Regions from separate parts of the Homo sapiens genome. Here all the other regions are reported to be linked to region 1. The links are microRNA targets in miRTarBase. Many come from high-throughput screens and were not tested one by one. Region 1 holds a microRNA gene; each other region holds the end of a gene's coding sequence.
Evidence for each region. The annotated mature microRNA hsa-miR-623 reads AUCCCUUGCAGGGGCUGUUGGGU and lies in region 1 at 1,332-1,354, shown strand. An mRNA with a match to its seed (bases 2 to 7 or 8) in the 3' UTR can be bound and repressed. Matches are read on the target gene's strand: a 7mer-m8 pairs with bases 2 to 8, a 7mer-A1 pairs with bases 2 to 7 and ends in A, and an 8mer does both.

Region 2: the mRNA of ZNF48 is a reported target of hsa-miR-623. Seed matches in the 3' UTR shown: 7mer-A1 at 471-477.
Region 3: the mRNA of SLC16A4 is a reported target of hsa-miR-623. Seed matches in the 3' UTR shown: 7mer-m8 at 676-682.
Region 4: miRTarBase lists TLX1 as a target of hsa-miR-623. Seed matches in the 3' UTR shown: 7mer-m8 at 3,310-3,316 and 7mer-m8 at 3,190-3,196.
Region 5: the mRNA of BID is a reported target of hsa-miR-623. The part of its 3' UTR that is shown has no 7-base or 8-base seed match.

The regions. Positions count from the first base shown.
Region 1 is chr13:99,354,815-99,359,420 of GRCh38, forward strand. It overlaps MIR623 (microRNA 623), which reads left to right and starts at 1,317; the gene lies at 1,317-1,414. The region is part of intron 7 of UBAC2 (UBA domain containing 2); the gene reads left to right. RefSeq lists an enhancer at 1,344-1,583.
Region 2 is chr16:30,398,735-30,402,734 of GRCh38, forward strand. ZNF48 (zinc finger protein 48) reads left to right here. Exons shown (of 3, transcript NM_001214909.2): 3 at 1-1,374. The coding sequence ends at 373. Among named protein-coding and RNA genes, the nearest start is that of ZNF48, 5.3 kb to the left of the region's middle. RefSeq lists an enhancer at 39-582.
Region 3 is chr1:110,360,221-110,364,220 of GRCh38, reverse strand. SLC16A4 (solute carrier family 16 member 4) reads left to right here. Exons shown (of 9, transcript NM_004696.3): 9 at 328-1,364. The coding sequence ends at 455. Among named protein-coding and RNA genes, the nearest start is that of RBM15, 23 kb to the right of the region's middle.
Region 4 is chr10:101,136,411-101,140,410 of GRCh38, reverse strand. TLX1 (T cell leukemia homeobox 1) reads right to left here. Exons shown (of 3, transcript NM_005521.4): 3 at 2,622-3,720. The coding sequence ends at 3,498. It also overlaps a transcript of TLX1NB not described here. Among named protein-coding and RNA genes, the nearest start is that of TLX1, 7.1 kb to the right of the region's middle.
Region 5 is chr22:17,732,161-17,736,160 of GRCh38, forward strand. BID (BH3 interacting domain death agonist) reads right to left here. Exons shown (of 6, transcript NM_001196.4): 6 at 1,978-3,431. The coding sequence ends at 3,420. Among named protein-coding and RNA genes, the nearest start is that of MIR3198-1, 30 kb to the right of the region's middle.

The DNA of each region.
Region 1 (4,606 bases):
AAATCTTACTGGCAGTCATGTCATCCAAGAAGTTGTTGGCATAATCTCGGAGTGCAACAGCAAGGACCTAAACGGGCAGATCCTCTCCCAGGGGAAAATCAGTAGTCCTTCAGCGTTGGCTGGGTTTGATGGACAGAGGAGAGCTGAGTCCAGACATGAGCTGGGAAGTGGACATCCGCCTGCCACGGTGAACGCAGATAGGCAAGTGCGGGAATGAGACTCAGGTGGTCACTGAAGACATGAAAATGGATGAACTCTCCACGGAGGAAATGTAAGAAGAGGGGAAACCTTGAGTAATCCCCAGTCTCATTTTTAATTAGGAGTTTCACCTCTGTTTCTGTCAAAACATTTACTGTAACAAGTACCAAAACTAATTTTAATTTTGACTTTTACTTTATAATTTGTGTGTAGAGCCAATGCTGGGAAGGAAAAAATGACCCCAAATTTGGCAGACAAAAGAATGAAGGAAGGGAAAACAGAATATACGATGCAGAAATGGATAATCCACACTCTGAGAGATGCACTTCCATTCTTATGTCTTCAAGGCCACTGTCTCAGTCCTCGCTGTGTGGCCCTTACCGTCACCAGCGTTCAGTGCTTACAGGTGTGTCACTCAGTCGAGGGAGTGAGGAAGCTGCAAGACAAGGCCTTGGCATGCTCTTCCTGCGCTGATGTCCCTGACCTGCAGCTGGGCTGTGGGCTGTGGAACCCTGTGGTCCCCCCACGCCACCCTCTCACCACCACCTCCTCCTCACAGAGCAGCCTTAGCATTCTCATTCTCTACCAAAACCAAAACCAAACCAAAACACAGGAAAAGGTTGGGACACCTCTGGTCCTGACGGTCCCTGGAGGAAAAGTTCCCCATGAGGAGTGATGGGTCAGTCACGTTTTCAAAACAAACGAGAGCCAGGACGCAGGCCTGTGGCTCAGCCCGCAGCGTGCTTGGTGCCACAAGCCCCCCCGCAGCTGCCCAGAGTCTCACCCCACTCTGTGCAGGGGGCCTGGAGGGCAGCGGCGGCACAGACCCACTGGACGCCCTGGTGCATGGCTGAGCCATGTGCATCCCATGGCTCTCTCCAGAGTCCCTTCCCTGCACCTCCAGGGCCTCCCCAGATGGAACTGGCTGGGAGCCGTGCTTTGTTGAAACAAAGGGAAAACCTGTCTCTCTTGGGTTTGCAGCTGCTGTTGAAACCAACTGAACCTGTTTGTAAAATTGTACCTATGTCACAGTAAGATCAGCTGTGCTAGGTATGTCAGGCCTCTGAAAAGAAATGTCATTAAAGTAAACAAGACTTGGGACACATGTCTGTCAGACTGTACACAGTAGAAGCATCCCTTGCAGGGGCTGTTGGGTTGCATCCTAAGCTGTGCTGGAGCTTCCCGATGTACTCTGTAGATGTCTTTGCACCTTCTGTCCTCATTGCCATCCCCAATCAGTCCCTGGAACACCAGCTGTGGCCCTGACCCTTTTAGCCCCTGCATGGAATGCACAGGCAAGGCGTGTGGCCTTTGGGACTCCAGCCGACTAGAGCAAGACAGAGGAAGAAGAGACGGGGCAGAGGGCAGCCGATAGTTGGAAACTTCTGTCCCCTAAGCCAAAAGGTTCTCAAAACTGAGCAACAGGATGTATTGTGTCTCCTGATCGTATTGCCATGGAAACTGCCTTCTGTTCTGCCTAGAAGAAATAGTACTGTTTGAAGTATCTCATCCATCAACACTGGTCACTGTGAGAAACCACAAAGGAAAAGTGAAACCGAGAGCTGCAAAACTAGCCTGGGACTTTGTTCAAGCGATCATCTCCTTTCCCTCTAGTTTATTATTTTTTCCAATACCTACTGAGACTACTGCTAAGCAGCACAGAAAGATACAATACACTGTTTTTATAGCACGACACAAAGATCATGGGTGGCACTTCACATGACAGGGTTAGATTCAGTCTTCTGAGTTTTCTAAGGTTCCTATTTTTAAGACTTTACCAAGGAACCAAGGCTTTCAAATATGCAGCATGGTTTCTTCTGGGCCTCGCGTTGCCCCATCTCTTATCCAAGTGGTGAATGTGTTGCCAGTTTGTGTGTGGTTCTGGTGGTGGGCTTTGTTTGGTTTTCTTTTTTTGGGCTTTGTTTGGTTTTTCCCCAGTTTTGCCACAAAGCTTTTGCTGAGGACAGCAGCCTCTGTGGTGTCTTTTCTCTCTGTATTGTGCTCACTCTTGTAGTCATGCACCACATAACAATATGTTTTGGTCAATGACAGATTGCATGTATGACAGTGGTCTCATAAGATTATGATGCCATATTTTTGCTATGTCTTTTCTATGTTTAGATACACAACTACCATTGTGTTACAGCTGCCTCCAGTATTCAGCACAGTGACTTGCTGTACAGGTTTGTAGCCTGGTCGCCATAGGCTACACCAAGCAGCCTTGGTGTGTAGTAGGCGATCACATCTAGGTTTCTGTAAGTACACAGCAACAAAGTCACCCAACAGCACATTTCTCAGAATGAAGCCCTGTTGTTAAGCGACACGTGACTACAGTTTTAAGTCTAACAAGATGCCTCTCGTTCAGTCCTGAAGTGCTTCTTGTTTAGTTTTTAATGTACGTTTGTTTTGTTATCTCAGCCAAACTCTTTTCAGGGCCATAGGAAATTAGTCATTTCTCTGTGTCACAGCCTCCTTATCTGGCCCCAGGACAGCGCACTACGCATAGAAGGCAAATGAGTAAAACTAAGTGTAAGCATATTCATACTTACACCAAAAGCTGCAGCTTCCACAGAGCACAGGGAATTGCAAATAACTGTCTTCTATGAGGAGCTGCCATTTGTGGTTTCACCAGTTTCCCAGCATTGCTTCTTTGTAACTCCTGGTTCTTGTATTAGAAGAGGATGCTATGTCCATGAAGAATGTAGGTATCAAGCATGTCCTTTGGGAGCCTCCTTGCTTTAACCCCTCTCACCCCTTCCACCCCGCCTTCATTAGTAACCCATCACCTGGGTCTTCATATCCCAACTAACTACAGTCTTGGCTAAGAAAACCCCATACGCCTTAACTCAGCAATATGCCTCACTATGTCTTTGTCCATTCAGTTATCCATTTTGCAACTGTTTCTTGAGTGCTTGCATATGCCAGGTCGTACAGGAGGCCAGGTCTACAAACAGGACAAGATGGAGAATCACAGTCCCCGTGGAGCTAATAGGCTGTTGTGAGATTCAGGCCGGTTAGCCTGCAAGTGAAATGGGATGTGCTGAGAGCTGTCCTGGGGAAGGGATGGTGAGGTGTGAGAGCACGCAGAGGAGTACAGGGTGGTGAGAGCAGGCTCCCCAGCAGGAGTAGAGAATGTGAGGGCGGTGTTGTGAGAAAGTGACTCCAGTGGCAGACAGGAGTCTGGTAAGCCCAGGTAAGAAATTTCTGTCGGATTCTGAAAGCAACAGGGATGCATTGAGTAGCATCAAAGGGGAGGATGTCTGTAGTCATCCGAAAAGGCCCTTAATGTACTCTCCCTTTCTTTTCTAACTGTGTATCTATGTGGCTGGATTTGCTTCATGTACTTCAAAAACCAGAGTAACAGAACAAAATCGAATGCAGAAGCAGATGGGAGAATCCAGCAACCTTCTAGTAAGTCAGACATTAAAGAGATTTGCAAAAATGGAAAACAGTGCCACTCTTCTCAGTAATTCTGTTTGGGAAAACATGGTTATTTTTTATTTCAAAAATCTATATTTATGTTAGCAAGTAATAGGCTTGTGATTGTTAATGAGTTATTAAATATTTTTAAATTAATAAAAGGGCAATGAGGAGCCAGCAAAGGGTTTCTAAGTAGAGGAGGGGCTTGACGAGATTTGTATCTTAGGAACTAACTCTGGAGCCACCCCGGCCATGGACTGTGGTCTCACACGGGGCAGTGAGAGTGAGGGTGGAGACAGTGGCGGGGGAGTTCCAGTGGACAGAGCCTAGAGATCTGGTTTATGCAGTGGATGGATGTGGATGTCACACCCCAAGACAGGGGACACAGCAAGAGATATGGGGTGGGAGATGAGTTTGTTTGGGACGTGTTCTATCTTAGGTGTCTCCTTAACATTTAGATGAAAGTGTGTTCAGGAGACAGTGGGTTACATGGCTCTGAGACACAGTGTTTGGGTTGGAGGTTCGAGTTTGGGAGTCTCTACCCCATGAAGCCCTAGGAATGGATGGGCACCCAGAACACGGAAGAAGGAGAGAAACACTCCCCACATGGAACCTTCAAGAACACCCGTGTCTGAAGGACAGGAGTGGGAGGAGGAGAATCTGAGGACACTGAGAAGGCGTAGCTAGAGGGCTAGAAAGAAAGCGGGATGCCACAAAGCCTGGGGAAGAGAATGTCGAGGAAGAGTGGTCAGTAAGACCTGGTGCTGCCAGAAGGCAGGTCACAGAGCGCTCAGGAGGATCCACTGGATCTAACAAAGGGTGCTTTGATAACCTGGAAGAAAAAGGAAAAAGTGTTTCATTATTAAAATACCAGACTATGAGCTTCTAAAAGGCAGGGAGGTTGTCTTAATTCTCTTTCTACTTTTGTTGCTGAAAGTATTACCAGGTACATTAGTAGATGTGATAATTTTGTGATTTTACATTAACT
Region 2 (4,000 bases), not on the chromosome of region 1:
CAAGCACCTCCGCACCCACCGTGGTGAACGGGCCCGGCCACCACCACCATCCACTCTGCTGCGGCCACATAACCCACCTGGCCCAGTACCCATGGCCCCTCGACCCCGAGTTCGGGCCCAGCCTTCTGGACCCAGCCAGCCCCACGTGTGTGGCTTCTGTGGGAAGGAGTTCCCCCGGAGCTCAGATCTGGTCAAACACAGGCGTACACACACGGGGGAGAAGCCATACAAGTGTGCAGAGTGTGGCAAGGGTTTTGGTGACAGTTCTGCCCGCATCAAGCACCAGCGTGGGCACCTGGTCCTGACGCCCTTTGGGATAGGGGATGGTAGGGCAAGGCCCCTCAAGCAGGAGGCAGCAACAGGACTGGAATGACGCGGTCCAGGGAGGGCGGAGGCCCAGGAGACCAAAGGGAGGGGCTCTGCCGCTTAGCAGAGAAGAAAGGGCCTGGGAGGTGGTGGGAGGGAGAAGGAAGGGAAGAAAGGGGAGGAAGAATAGATAGAAATAGGGATTGGAGACAGTAACCTTGAAGCTCAGGAAACTGTCCTGGCTGGGCTGAGTCAGGACCTTGCCAGGACGGGCTGTACCCCTGGCTTCTAGAAGACTGCCTAGCACACAGTAGGCATTCAATACTTGTTGAATAAATAAACTGGCTTTCACCTAAGGACTCAACCCTAAATTCCTGCTGCCTCATCTGTTAAGAACTGACACTTTCCCCTTGCTGGGCAGGTAGTACACACCTGTAATCCCAGCAGTTTGGGAGGCTGAGGTGGGAGAATCACTTGAGCCCAAAAGTTTGAGGCTGCAGTGAGCTGATTGCACCACTGATGCCTCCCAACCTTGCTCTGGGAGACCAATGCCTGAACCAGGGTTTGTTTACCTTCTGAGCTGCAGAGATGGGGCTTCTGGAATTTAAGGTAACAGGATGAGGCAGGGGTATCTTGATCATCCGGATGGGGCAAATACTGCTGTGTGGCATGGTGGTACCCACCCCTATGGAGGGGCACTCTTGGACAGAGCCCAGACCTTTGTGCCCTGGAGGGAGCCAACCCACCCTGACACGGAGACACTGGCAGAATAGACCAGAGACAGAAGGTGCTCTCATGGTATCCAGCCTGGATGCCAAGCCCAAGTCCTGGTGGATAGCAGAGGCCAGCTGTTTGGGAAAAGGGCAGGATGCTCTGAGGCCTGGCAGCCACATTTCCATGTGTCTTTTTACCAATAAACGGCTTCTCTTCTGAGGCTTGGACAGTGTGTGTGTACACACAGGCATGAAAAAGGTGGAGAGGGGTCTCTGCGCGCAAAACTCAGACTGTAAATTTTGTGTGCTTCCCTTGCTCTCTGAGCCCATTAAATAAAGAGGTTGTCTTGGCGTAGTCAGCGGCTTTCTAGCTCCGACGTCTGGTTCAAAAACGGCCGCCAGCTCCATCAGCCGATGCCCCAGGCCTGAGGTCTGGCTGCCCGCAGGCACCACCTACGCCACAGCATCCAGCGCGACCCTTAAAAGGAAAACCGCGCGGCGCTGCAGAGACAAGGCAGCAAGGAGGAGGAAGAGGGGGCGTGTGGGGGGCGTTGTTGCTATGGCGACGGCTGTCGGCGGGAGGCAGCCCACAGGTCTGGAACCGGCGTGGAAAGCCCGGACGCCGGCGCGCCGCCCACCGGGACCTGGGAAACCCGACACCCGAGACCCTTTTTATGCGTCGGGAAATGAGTCATTCGGCTGCACAGCCCAAAGGGAGGGCAAACGGTGCTCCTTCACCCCCAGAAAAGCCCGCCGGATTTCCCGGCGCCCCGCGGGGCCTGGGAAGCAGGTCTGCAATCCCTAGCGTTTTCACAACCACTGGCCTGATCGGCCAGGGATTAAAGAAAAAAGAAGTCCAGGGCGGTTCTCCCCGCTAAACAATGAAGGCAACGAAGTACAGGGTCGCAAGTTCCCGCCCCCGGCTCTCCCCGATCTCCGTGCGGAAAGAATCCCTGGACGGGTTCTCGCGAGATCGTAAGCACTGGCCTGGCTTCCCTAGAAACCGACCAGGGCTGGCTGCAGTGCGGCTCCTCCCGCTCCGCCCGCCCTTTCCAAATTGATGCGCTCTCAAAACCCTAGAACCCTGCGTTCAGGGCTGGGGCTCTTGATGGCCTGAGCGGAGCCCTTTGGGGCTTCTGGAAGTTCCTTCTTGCTGGTTTTCCTAGCTCCCTTCCCTACCAGTGTGCCCTCCAAGACGACCTGCAGTGAACTTTCTTTTCTTTTTTTTTGAGACGGAGTCTCGCTCTGTCGCCCAGGCTGGAGTGCAGTGGCGCGATCTTGGCTCACTGCAACCTCCGCCTCCCGGGTTCAAGCGATTCTCCTGCCTCAGCCTCCTGAGTAGCTGGGATTACAGGCGCGCTACCAAGCCCGGCTAATTTTTGTATTTTTAGTAGAGACGGAGTTTCACCATGTTTGTCAGGCTGGTCTCGAACTCCGGACTTCGTGATCCGCCCGCCTCAGCCTTCCAAAGTGCTGGGATTACAGGCGTGAGCCACCGCGCCTGGCCACTTTCTTTTCTTGATTTCTTTCTTTTTCTTTTTTCTTTTTTTCTCAAGACAGGGTCTCACTCACTCTGTCGCCCAGGCTGGAGTGCAGTGGCAGGATCTTCGGCTCACTGCAGCCTCCGCTCGGGTTCAAGCGATTCTCCTGCCTCAGCCTCCCTAGTAGCTGGGATTACAGGCGTCCGCCACCGCGCCTGGCTAATTTTTTTATTTTTAGTAGAGACGGGGTTTCACCATGTTGGCCAGGCTGGTCTCAAACTCCTGACCTTAGGTGATCTGCCCGCCTCGGCCTCCCAAAGTGCTAGGATTTATAGGCATGAGCCACCGTGCCTGGCCTGCTTTCTAAAATTACATCTGGCCATGTCACTCCCCCATTGAAACCCCAGTGGATCTCCACATGCTGTCCCCAAAGCCTAACTTTCATTGGCACTCAAGCCCTTCCATTTGTGTAGTTTCAGCCCTGGGCTCCTTAAATGTCGTTTCTTTTACTTGGAATGCTCCTCCACCACTACCCACCCCTTGTTAATCTCCTCTGTCAAAACACCTCAAGCACTACTTCCTCCAAGAAGCCTACTCTGACCCTCGTCTGGGTTAGTTACAATCCCCTTCTCTGAGCAACCCGTCTCTGAGCACCTAACACATGAAGAGCTTCTTGAGGATAGTTACTCACTCAACAGCTGCACCTATTGTGTGCTGCATACTGGGATAGAAAGATAAACAAGACAAAGTCCCTGACCTGTTTTTATGCGGGAGATAGACATTGAACAAATAATTACAAGTGAGGTGAGAAATGTCCAGCAAACCTATGAGCTGGAAAGAATCCTCTGTGATCCAAAGGCCTTTCCAGGCCAGGTGTGGCTCAGGCCTGTCATCCCAGCATTTTGAGAGGTTGAGGCAGGAGGCCAGGAGGCCAGGAGTTCGAGACCAGCCTGGGCAACATAGTGAGACCTCTCTACAAAAAATACAAAAATTAGGTGGAATGCACCTGTAGTCCCAGCAACTCAGGAGGCTGAGGTGGGAGGATCGCTTGGCCCCAGGAAGTTGAGGCTGCAGTGAGCCATGATCATGCCACTGCACTCCATCCTGGGCAAAAGAGCAAGATCTTGTCTCCAAAAAACAAAAACGACCCCCGCCACCACCAGAAAATACTGTAATCCCAGCTACTCGGGAGGCTTGAGGCAGGAGGATCGCTTGTGCCTGGGAAGTCAAGGTTGCGGTGAGCTGTGACTGCACACTGCACTCCAGCCTGGGGGACGGAGTGAGACCCTGTCTCAAAATATATATATATATTTCCACAAACTACTGCCTCCTTGCCAATCTGGCAAAGTCCCACTCATCTTTAGTTTTTGTTTGCTTGTTTTTTTTACAGATGAGCTCTCACTATATTGCCCAGGCTGGAATACAGTAGCTATTCACAGGCACATAGTGCACTATAGCCTTGAACCCCTGGGCTCCAGCAGTCCTCCTGCCTCAGCCTCC
Region 3 (4,000 bases), not on the chromosome of region 1:
ATTATCACTTCTTTTTTTCTCTGGAAAACAATAATTTATGATTATTTTCTTCATAATAGCGGCCTTCTAATAAAATTCATGGTAAAATAAAACGGTATGTGTTCCTAATTTTCTCCAACTTCCACTGTAAGATTGGAGATGGTGTAAGTCCCTAACTCAGGTGGAGCTGATTCAACTTCATCAGTGAAAAATAGGGCAGCTAAGAAGCTTCACTAAGTTCAAATGGGTCACAATACAGGAGGCTCCTTGCTTTGAGGAGCTATTCATGGCTGAGAGTTACTAATGGCAAAATTTCCTTCCCTAACAGAAATCATTCCTTCCTTCCAGGCTGGTTATATGATTATACCCAGACATACAATGGCTCTTTCTACTTCTCTGGCATATGCTATCTCCTCTCTTCAGTTTCCTTTTTTTTTGTACCATTGGCCGAAAGATGGAAAAACAGTCTGACCTGAAAGAAAGAAGACTGCAATCAAGTGAGAGCTAAACAAAAGAAAACCTAAACTAATGTCATTGGAAACAAAAGCTTGAAAGAAACACATCGCATCTACATTTGTAACATGAGAAGGAAAACAATTTTTTTTTTTTTTTTTTTGAGACGGAGTCTCGCTCTTTCGCCCAGGCTGGAGTGCAGTGGCGCAATCTCGGCTCACTGTAATCTCCGCCTCCTGGGTTCAAGGGATTCTCCTGCCTCAGCCTCCCAAGTAGCTGGGACTACAGGCACACGCCACCACACCCAGCTAATTTTTTGTATTTTTAGTAGAGGCGGGGTTTCACCATGTTAGCCAGGATGGTCTCCATCTCCTGACCTCGTGATCCGCCCGCCTTGTCCTCCAAAGTGCTGGGATTACAGGCATGAGCCACTGGGCGCGGCCAGATAAGTTTTTAAGGTTCCTTCTTGCTTTAGCATTCTGAGAAATGTCTAATTGGTAGTAAGACAAGAGTAATAGCAACCTGTATTGTTAGTATTTAACCAAATAGGCTAAAATTTTAATCAGGTACCTTATGTATTAAATAGAAATCGGAATGTACCATAATAAATCCAAACTCTCAATTACGCCATGGTAATTCAGTCACTAAAATATGTAAAGATAGAAAATTTTTTAATTTAAAGAAGTGTGAAACATAGCCATTGATTGATCAGAATTCTGGAATCTGAATATTAAAACCTTACTTAGTGACTGGAATGGTATATGCTCCCTCCAAAAGTTTATCTTTGTTTATTGATTAAAGGTAATCCTTACTTTCTTTGTATTACTTAGGTTCTTAATTAAAGGTAATCCTTACTTTCTTTGTATTACTTAGGTTCTTAAATTTCTATGATAAACATGTATTGCTAAATAATAAAAAGTATATAAAAATTGCTTTAAAAACTTCTTTATTTCAAGATCATCTGAACAGCAATTTTGCCCATCAAAGCGTTATTTTTCTGCTACATCTAATTAACAAAATATTCACACTAAATATTGAAACGTCTCTTTACAAGATTTACATGAAAGTTGAATAGGTGGTTTTAATGGGAAATATGTTTAAATTAAAAGATGTTTCTTATACCACCAACCTCCCTTAGCATCTCCTTCTGAATGCTTTTTTTTTTTTTTTTTTGAGACAGGGTCTCACTCTGTCGCCCAGGCTGGAGTGCAGTGGTATGATCTCAGCTCACTGCAAACTCCGCCTCCAGAGTTCAAGCTATTCTCCTGCCTCAGCCTCCCAAGCAGCTGGGATCACCGGCATCGGCCACCATGCCCAGCCAATTTTTGTTATTTTTAATAGAGACAGGGTTTTACCATCTTGGCCAGACTGGTCTCAAACTCCTGACCTCAAGTGATCCACCCGCCTCGGCCTCCCAAAATGGTGGGATTACAGGCGTGAGCCTCCATGCCTGGTCCAAAATGCTTCTTAAACTATTACCATCATCGTTATTCCACTCTTCCATTCCTCTCTGCTTTAAAATGTCTATTAACAACTTACAGAGAAAAACTCTAGAAGACTGGTTTTAGCTCCATACCCTGTCACTGCCTATGTATGCCTTCTCTACCAGGCACCATTTCACTTTTCACTATCTGACTCACTCAAAGGCTACCTCCTTTGGAAAAATCTTCCCCAGCATTGTCATTCTCATCTGGAATCCTATCTAACTTTTAACAGAGTACTACATGAACTCACATGTCAATCCTTTCCATTAGTCTGCAAGATCAACAAGATGAATGGGGTTTCATTCATCTTTGTATTCTCCAAGGCCTAGCATAAGCTTTGGAACCAAATTAATCTCGGTTCAAATCTCAGTTATGTTAAAAAACAGTAGTTGATCCTATTTAAATATGGTTTTTATGGCTTTCTGACTAAAGCAAAAGAAAAAAGAAAACTGGTTTTCTGACTTAAAAAAAAAGAAATATCATTTTTACATTTAGATGTGGATGTCTAATATTTTTACATTTTACATGTAAAAAAAATGAAAAAAAAAACCACCCCTTACACATACAAACAGCAAAAATAGTTAACTAATAATAAATATCAGCTCTGCCACTTGTTACCATATGCCCTCATGAAAGTTACTTAAAATTAACTTATCTGAGACCCAATTTCCTGCTCTGTAAAATGAAAATACCACCAACCCACCTCACAGATATACTGTGAGGACTAAACCCATGAAAATATACTTGTGCCGGGCATGGTTGCTCACACCTTCAATCCTAGCACTTTGAGAGCTGAGGCGGGTGGATCACTTGAGGTCAGGAGTTCAAGACCAGCCTAGCCAACATGGTGAAACTCTGTCTCTACTAAAAATACAAAAATTAGCTGGGCACAGTGGCGCACGCCTGTAGTCCCAGCTACTTAGGAGGCTGAGGCAGGAGAATCGCTTGAACCCGGGAGGTGGAGGTGGCAGTGAGATCATGCCACTGCACTCCAGCCTGGGCAACAGAGCAAGACTCCGTCTCAAAAAAAAAAAAAAAAAAAAAAAAGAAAAAGAAAATATACTTATACCAGGCAAAATGCCCTTCATATATAGTAGCTGCTAATGTCCATTCTGCTTTCATGTCAAAACAAAAAATAAAAGAAATCAATGATTTTATGAACCACTTTCATTAATTCCTTCTTCTCTTTAGAGTAGCAATTATTTTTAAAAGGGACTTCAACTACCTAGAGCAACCTGATCCTTCCTCCTAGCTAAGCAAGCTGTACATTTTAAGTGGGACCAACTAAAGAACTCCAAATTGAATTCTTAGGTTTTATGAATCTCATGCAACAGAGAAGTTCTTTATCCTACTCAATAGTAATAGGCCCTCTAAACCTGGGTGGTGTGAATTAAGAAAGCCTGAATCCCAAGACTACAGAAAGCTAACGACTTCTATAACTAACGCGTTCATCATATTAACAATTAACTTATGATGTTCCTGTTCATTTACTGCTATGTTGTCATTTTTGTGGACAATAAGATGCCATATAAAACATTTCTAGGAATCCATAATGCAGGAATATCATCCCAGCTATATATGGAGTTTCAAGAAAAGCATAATAGTTGCTGATTTTTTCTTCCCCCTCAAGAGATTCCATAAAACAAAGAGGAAACAAATATTACACAACTTACATATGAGTAAGTGCGCTTGGGGCAGTAGGGTGGTGAATAACTTCACTTCAACATCTAATAATACACCAGTTACTGAGGTAGACACATACCTTTTTTAAAAAAATAATTTTCTTTCAAAAAATTTTTATTTGAGACCAGGTCTCGCTCTGTTACCCAGGCTGGTGTGCAGTGGCACAATCACAGATCACTGCAGCCTCTACTTCCTGGGCTCCAGTGATCCTCCCACCTCAGCCTCCCAAGTAGCTGGGACCTCAGATGTGCACCATGCCTGGCAAAGTTTTGTATTTTTGGTAGAGACGGGGTTTTGCCATGTTGCCCAGGCTGGTCTAGAACTCCTAGGCTCAAGTGAATCTCCCGTGTCAGCCTCCCAAAGTGCTGGGAATACAGGTGTGAGCCACCGCACCCAGCTGA
Region 4 (4,000 bases), not on the chromosome of region 1:
TCTCAACGAATTCCGGGCGGAGAGGCGGGAGTCCTGCGTGTCCCGCCGCGCCGCGGGTCCCAGCGTCCCCAGGAGTCTGGCATCCCCGGGAGGCCTAGCCCAAGGGCAGGAGAGTCAGCGGGGCCCTACTGAAAGTGCACGACCCGGGCAGCCGGCGGCCGAACAGCTCCGGGAGCAGGCGAGCGGTATCCGGGAAGCTCAAAGGCCGCCCCCCGGACGCCCCAGGCCCCAGCGCTGGGATTGTACCTACCTGCGGAATGTCCTCTTCTGCATGAGTCCGCGTCGAGCTGGGCAGGGTCCGAGAGCTGCCGGGCTGAGGGCTCCGGCCTGCATGTGCTCTCCGCGGTTAGTGAGTGTGAGCCCTGTGATGTTCCTGAAGATGGGGGCTGGGGGGGAGGGAGGGTAGGAGGTGTTTTGGGGGACAGGGGTGTTGGGCCTAACTGTGCTCAAGAGAGGATGGGAGCGGGGGTGGAGAGCCCAGGCTTGGGAGCCAGCTTGGGGCTGCTGTGTTTGGGCCGGCCAGCCGCTCCCCACCTAACCCCTGTTCCTCTGTTAGGCAATCTGTGTCCAGAAAATGCTCGGAGTTCTCCGGACACAGCAGCCTCTAGAGGCGGTCTTGGGGAATTGGGAGGCGGGAAGAAGGCCACAGTCTCCCCTGGGGTCCTGCTGTGTGATCTGCGCCGGCCGGGAAGCATTGATCTTGAGTCCAAAAGAGGAGAGAAATCGCACCCCGAGAAGAAGGCGCGAGCTCGGTGGCTCCAGTCCTGCGGGAGCAGAGGGGACAGCAGACCTGCCCAGGTAGAGGGAGACGACTTCTGAGGTGCTGGAGGCTATTTCTGGATTTTGCGCGGCCTGGCGCTGGGTGCCACAGCCGGTGAATGCGGGAGACCTGCAGCAGACCCGGCGCTGCCGCCAGAACCTGCTCACTACGCTCCACACAGCTCGTCAGGGCCCAACCTGAGCACTCCGCGGGCCTGCGGGGATGGGGCGGAAAGGCTGGCTGCTGTCTTCGGACCCTGAACCCTCCCCTCTTTTTCTCTTTTCTTCATGTCTACACAAAGTGAGTGACAGAAGCCCCCTCTTATGCGGATATCCCAGGGGACCCCAGATGAGGGGGTGGATGACCAAGCCCACCCTCCACTCAGCCGAACTTCCCCATGGGCTTGCTGGGGTGGGAAGTTGCTGTGCTCACGACCTGTGTCACAGCCCTCATGGCTGCCGGGCAGGGGCAGGGTTGGGGGACAGTGGTTCTGACAGTTAGGGTGGCTCCCCACCCTCAGTATCCCGCAAACACTTCTGCAGAGCTTCCAGTGACCCCCACACCACGAACTTCCACTTTCAGCTGAAAAGTTCTCTCACTCTCCCATCCCAGAGAAAAAGCCTCTTACCCCTCCATTTCAACTCACCCCTAGGGTGATGAGTTCTGTAGACCCTCCACCACACAGCTTCTTCCAGAAAAGCAGACCCAAGTCAGTCTTGTCTAGGATAATTCGAATAGGCTGGGGACTGGCTGTTATGCCTGTGTGCATGTGTACTGTGGCTGCAGGTCTGGCAAGGGTGGTCTGGAGGGCTCCTGGAGGTTCCCAGAAAGTCAATTCTTTAGATCTCTCCTAGGCCAGGCTAGTGCTGGGAACTGGTAGGTCCCACTTACAGCACCAGAGAGGATTCTGGCCTTAATTTCTGATTCAATGTGCCCCAGTCTCTGCAGCTTGCTGGGTAAGCGTCTAGAGCCCCAGAACTTCAGCAGATGTTGGTCCCGCCACAATGTATCTGCGTATCGCACAACAGACTCCCACCAACACATACACCATCAGCACACAATTACACACACTCATACAGAACCATACCCACCCACTTGCAGTGATGGTCTCCCACAGTGATCCACACTCCCCACTACCTTTACTCCCCCAATTACATTCTGTCACACACAAGTAAATACAGGGAAAATGCACAGCTCACACATAATTACATCTCACACACAATTACACCCATAAAATTCAAGATGATCCACTTCAGAAGCAGTCACACATTTCACAGAAAAATAGATTTACAAAGAGAAACTAATACATATTCTCCCAAACATCAACACGATTCATACATAATCACAAACAATGGTTGATTACACAATTACCCAAAAAGAAACAGTCACATTCACATACGGTTACACACACACCACTACAAGCCCGTGCATACAATGATAGTTTCGATTTGCAACTTAAGCAGAAACAAGCATTTACACGCAAGAATTGCAAACACAATTATACACTTAAATACCATTATAAATATTCACTATTTGCTCGCATTGCTGATTGCTCACATTATCACAAACACACCACACACACACACACACACACACACACACACACGACTCTCACATCCAAAGAAATCCACATCCTCTCAGGCACTGGTAATCCCAGGAGAGCCTGGCTCTCCCTGCTCTCCTCAACTCTGCCTTCTCTCCATCTGTCCTCTTCCTTTCCTCTCTCCAGAGCCTTAGGGTCCTGCCCCGCAACATGTCTCTCAAGTTCAGGTACCAAGGGCTGCCCCTGAAGCATCAGCTCACACACCAAACCCAAGTAGCTGAAGGACGCTAGGGTCCGCAAGGAGCAGGCAGCCCTGACTCCGGATCCGGAGGCTTTTATTTATTTTTTTCACATAAATTACACAAGCACTTTATAAAATGGTTACACAGAAAACACCTTATAAGTGCATAAATTAACACCCCCCCACCCCTCAAATGGGTTCTGGAGAAATGGGCTGCATTTATGTGAAAACCTGTCTGTGCGTACCTGGATTGGGCTGGGATGTGTGGTGGGGGCCTGGCAGACCAAGTGAGGCTGTTGTAGCTGTTGGCTGTTGTGTGTGGTGTAGTGTGTCACAGTGTGGCCATGACCTTGTGTTTGTGCTGGAGGGAGTGCCATGCTGTTCAGGATGAGTCTGTGTCACCCCTGACCTGTGCCTGATCGTAAGGTCCAAAGTGTAAACACTGTGACCCTCTGTCTGGTTGACACTCTCCCATAGATGCCCATGTGTGGCTCTGGGGTGACACCAGGAGGGACAGTGACACCACCTGTGTGTGGGCCTATGGGTTTCCATGTGTGTGATGAGAAGTGGGTCACAGAGAAGGGGTTTCCCAGGGCAAATTCAGATGACAGCCCTGGGGACCCCAGAAGCTCCTCCTCCCTTACCTCCCTTGCCTTTCTCTGAATCCCACGTTAAAAATTAAAATAAAATGAAATAAACAAAAACAGATTTCTTAACAGTTCAGACAGGTGCGGGACGCCTCTGGGAGGGGGGCGCGTGTCCTTGTCCCTTGAGCTCTTCCACCGAAGGGAGAACAGTGTCGGCACAAATGTGGGGGCCCTTCGGGGCCGTGCGAGGGCAGTGTTCCCCTCCTGGGTGCAGTCTGAGGCCAGGAGGGTGGGGAGGAGTCCTGGGTCTCAGGCCTCAGTGACCCCTGAGTGGGCCTGGGGTCCCACAGGGCAGAATGGGCAGGCTCACTCGCAGGCCGACGCCACCGACGTGACGCTAGTGATTTTGGTCGAGTCGTCAGACCACGGCTGCAGATTCTGCAGGGCGAAGAGCGACGAGTTGTGCACGCACAGAGGGTCAGCGGGCAGCGGCTGTGCCAGGCTCTTCTGGAAGGCCTCCTGCTGCAACTGCAGGAGGATGCGGTTCGCTTGCTGCCTCTCGGCCTCCCGTTCCTCCGCAGTCTGCCGTCTGCACCGGGAACAAGCCGTTACCTGCCAGGAGCACCGACCCAGCTCCCGCGTGTGCCCAACTCCTGGTGCGTTCCCAGGAGATAAACTGAACGAGCGCTGCTCGCCTTTGCAGTCCCCAAATCCAGTTTGGGCCCCTATAACGCGTTCCCTTCTTTTGAGAGTCCTGACTCCAACAAAGACTGGAAACCCCAAAGCGGATGGAGCCAAGGTATCCCAGAGGAGGAGCGATGGGAAAGTCTGCGAGGCCCAAACAGCTGGGACTCGCATCCACGCGCAGC
Region 5 (4,000 bases), not on the chromosome of region 1:
TAACCTTGGCTAGATAATACCTGCTGTATGGTACAGAATAGTGACATTCAATTACCTCATATATAAAGAGAGCTCCATGGAGAGCTGGAAAGTGCATGCCACTACAATATTAACACATCCCATCTTCCCTTTCTTTTTGCAAGGCTGTTGAATTTCAGCCCGGCATCCCCACACACTAACACCATCAGGTCTTCCACATTTGATGGTTACACCACAGGAGCCCACACCAGACTGCTGCTTCCCTGTGAGCTCAGAGTGAAATTGTTCTCAGGGGTATTTGCAAGGCCTTGTCATCAGTTAAAGACTAGCAGCTGACTCCAGGTGATTCTACCCCGCTGTCACCTCTCCAAAGGGGAAATTGAATAGTGGTATTGCTCACTGTGGTGAGTGTTCTTTGCACCACCAGAAGAAACTGGTTAATGAATGTACTATTTAGAAGAAAAGTTTTGACATTTAAAGATTACTAGTTGTTCCCTTTCCCCAGGAAAAGAAGGTCAAAGTACAGTCTTCCCTGTTGCAGAGTTTGGAATAACTCTGTTTGCCCTGATGCTTTCCAGCAGGAGAACTGTATTATGTAGAGGGGTCCTTGGCCAGCATCAAAGGAAAAAAATTATTTTTTTCCTAGACCTGTATTTTTCCTATTACAGTCTTCCATTTATTTCTTCCTCCAGATTAAAAGTGCCTCTTCCTACCTCATTCCTTAATTAAGGTCAATTTAGTGTTGGCTCAAATGCTTTCATCTCAAAAATACCGGAATTGAATGGTAATTTGGATAATTAAGTTATCGTGCATTTTAAGCAGCATGTGTTTCCTTTTTCCGTGTGAGTTCCATGAGCCTCTGCACTGCCGCTCTGCACTGCTGAACTGATCACTGTGGGTCATTCTGGCTCCTCTTCCTTCCTGTCATCTACCTTTTGGCCAATCTACTCTTCATCAGGGGAAAGGAACAAACTTCAAATCTGTGAGTTATTCTTTCTGTCAGAAGCAACGTGCTAGAGAGAATACATGGGATTTGAAGATAATCAGTGGACTCATCTTTCTATCCACATGGTAACTATGCCCTTGACAGGTGGTATCATTTCACATCATCAATTGTCTTTGTTAAGTCCATACTTAATTGGTTTGACTCCAGGTTTTGAAAACAAGATCGTAACATTCAAAGGACTCTATATTCCAATTCTCAGCTAGCACAACTAATAAAGTTGCTGGACAGTAAAACTAGGCGCCAGTGCTGTGATCCTTTAAGGAAGCCTTGAGTATCGCAGCAGTTAATGCTGGGTCCTAAGAGGAGAGGTCAGGAATGATTTGACCTTCTGAATGCACCAAATGTCCCACGTGACTTTCAGATACACCAAGCATCTTTTCAAGGAGAAAGCTTTTGATGTTTAACAAAAGAATTTCCATCACTTAATTCAAATATTTTTAAAACAGAAAGGAAAACACATTCTCTGAATTAAAGTCACCTTTGAATCATATCCACAAGGATTGTGTTACAGGGCAAAATCCACCAACTGCCAGGATATGCCCGAGTCACCATGGCTGGGAAGTGCTCAAGACTGGAACATTTGTGTTTGAGACAATGGAATCTTTTTATAATGTTGGCTTTGGGAGAAGGGGTGACGGTCTTGCTTTACAACCAAGACTATCTCAGACTTGGTCTGGAAGAATTTACACTAAGACCTGTTATAAAATGGTGGCCTACTGTATGAATTCAAGTGAAACAGAAGCAGGTGAAGATGCTGTGGAAGAGTCAGTGTGTGAGAGAGGTGGTCCAGAGTCACTTGCTGCTTAAGAACACTTTCCCATTAGTTCCGGGTGATGACTGCATACAGCTCCTTTGGGAAGAAAATGCCTCCCCCAGTGAGAATCTGATTATAATGGCTGACGTATGGATGGATGTGTAGGCGCAGTGTGGTTCAACCTGTTTCCATTGTGGTTGGAAAACTTTTTTAAAAGTCCACTCCAAAACATGAAAAGTCGTAGTGTTAGGAAGATTTATTTCCAAACAGTGGCCTCCACACTGCGCGGCAGCACTTCTTTTTAGTATTTGTAAGCTTTTGCCCACTTTCAATTGAGCCAGCCCTAGCGTGGTATGTATTGCATGCTGAACAATATAGAGTTTGTTTTTCCTTTCTGATGATTTTAAACTCTTAAAGAACAGGAAAGCATCTGGTAAGAAGAAATCATGAGTCCGTCAGTGCCCTTACTCATATGCGTCTCCAGTGGCCTCATGTTGTGGTCACAGGAGTTTCCTGTTCACAGCAATGTGTGTGATATGGACCCAGCATCCACTGTCGTGCTTTTAAACTGATTCCTGGGACATAGCTTACCACTGGAACAGCAGACCAGTGTTGCACTGTTTCTAAAGCTAAGCTTTTCCTTATTTATTTTGGTACTACCTAAGTGACTTGGTTTTGACTGTCCCTAAGAGAGGGAACCACTTTGCTGAATTTTTAAAAAGTCCAACTGCTCTTTCATCTTTTATGCTTAGAAACCTGTTCTCTCCAGATGCACTTCTGAGGCATGGATGAGCTGAGCGTATGGCTAGAAATTGGAAGTTTACAGCTATTACCAGGGGGCTAACTCCCGGGGCATCGCAGTAGCTTCTGGCACCCGTGGCTTCATGTCTTTAGCAAAGTCTTGATGTCATGGAAAGAGAAAAAGTGTATGCAGTTAGTTACCTGATTTTGTAAACAAACAGTGGCTGACCTGGGCCCTTAAATCACCTTCACACCTTTTAGAACCACAAGTGGTTCTTTTTGACTCCAACAAAGGAAACGAAGTTGAAAAAGTCAAGCCCCTGTGTACTGGGGCCGGACTTCCCATCATTTGAGTGCAGCACTTTAGTTCAGAATCTCTGTGCCATGTGGTTTTTTAAACAGGAAGATTGTTGGTTCCTTAGTATTAAGATAGATAGTCCCTATTTTGAGTGGAATTTTTCATTTGTAAGGGGTATGTTCCTTCTCTGATTCTTGCTTTCCTCAAACAGGATACTGCCTGCTGTAAGACCATCCTCTATGGTTGTACTTTAATAAACAGTAATTTTTTTTTACCAAAAAAATTGTATTTTGTTTCTACTTCCTTGAAACCTGCTTTCCAATTTAATTTTTAAGTGGGAACCTGCACAGTGGAAATAAAGGCACCGTGTGTAGATTTACAGATGTGCAGATTCATGTGTGGATGATATGAAGGCCATTCAAATACGTGTAAATGGACATTTTCATTCAAGTATATTAATGTAGATATTTTAAAGTGGGTTATAAGTTTAACATTGTCTTTAAAATAGAAGTCACAGCTATCTTCCAGCCTGTCTTCTCTAGGAACGCTGTTGACATGCCAGGGCTCCGTCTACACTGGAAGCAGCTATACAGCTGTGACCACATCGAGCTTTAGCCAGTCACACTTCTGGAACTGTCCGTTCAGTCCATCCCCTAGAGCAAGAAAGGAGAAAAAGCCAGAATCAGCTAGGCTCATTCACAAACCAGGCTCCAGAGCTCTGTGCCACAGTAGAGCAAAGCTGGGGTTTATGCAAAAACATGTTCTCCAGACCCCTGAAGTCCTATCCGTGCATCCTACTTTTTGCTACATGGGGGCAACTGCAAAAACAGGCCGTTCAGGCGGTGAGGTGGGTATTCACATCTCCAAGGCACTGACGGTGTCAGGAGGCCCCTGCTGGGTCAGAGGAATCACGATTCTGCCTCAGCCCTCAGTCTCTGGTAAGCTGTCCATACAGACTGCTGCACACGTCTTGCCCACCCTTTCCCCCTTTACATGGGTGTTGGTAAAAGCTGTCCAGGAATGGTCTCAGGCTTACCTCCTTCCAACAATTCAGCTGGGTTTAATGCCTGATTTAAGATTTATATTCATTCTCCTGTTTTTAAAATGCTTGTATAACTGAAGACCACAGCATATAAGGAATGTTTTCTTATGAGTTCTCAGTAGAGGATTAGATGCTATTTTACTTAAAAACCAAAGCCTGAAGTAATGCTTCTGACATGTC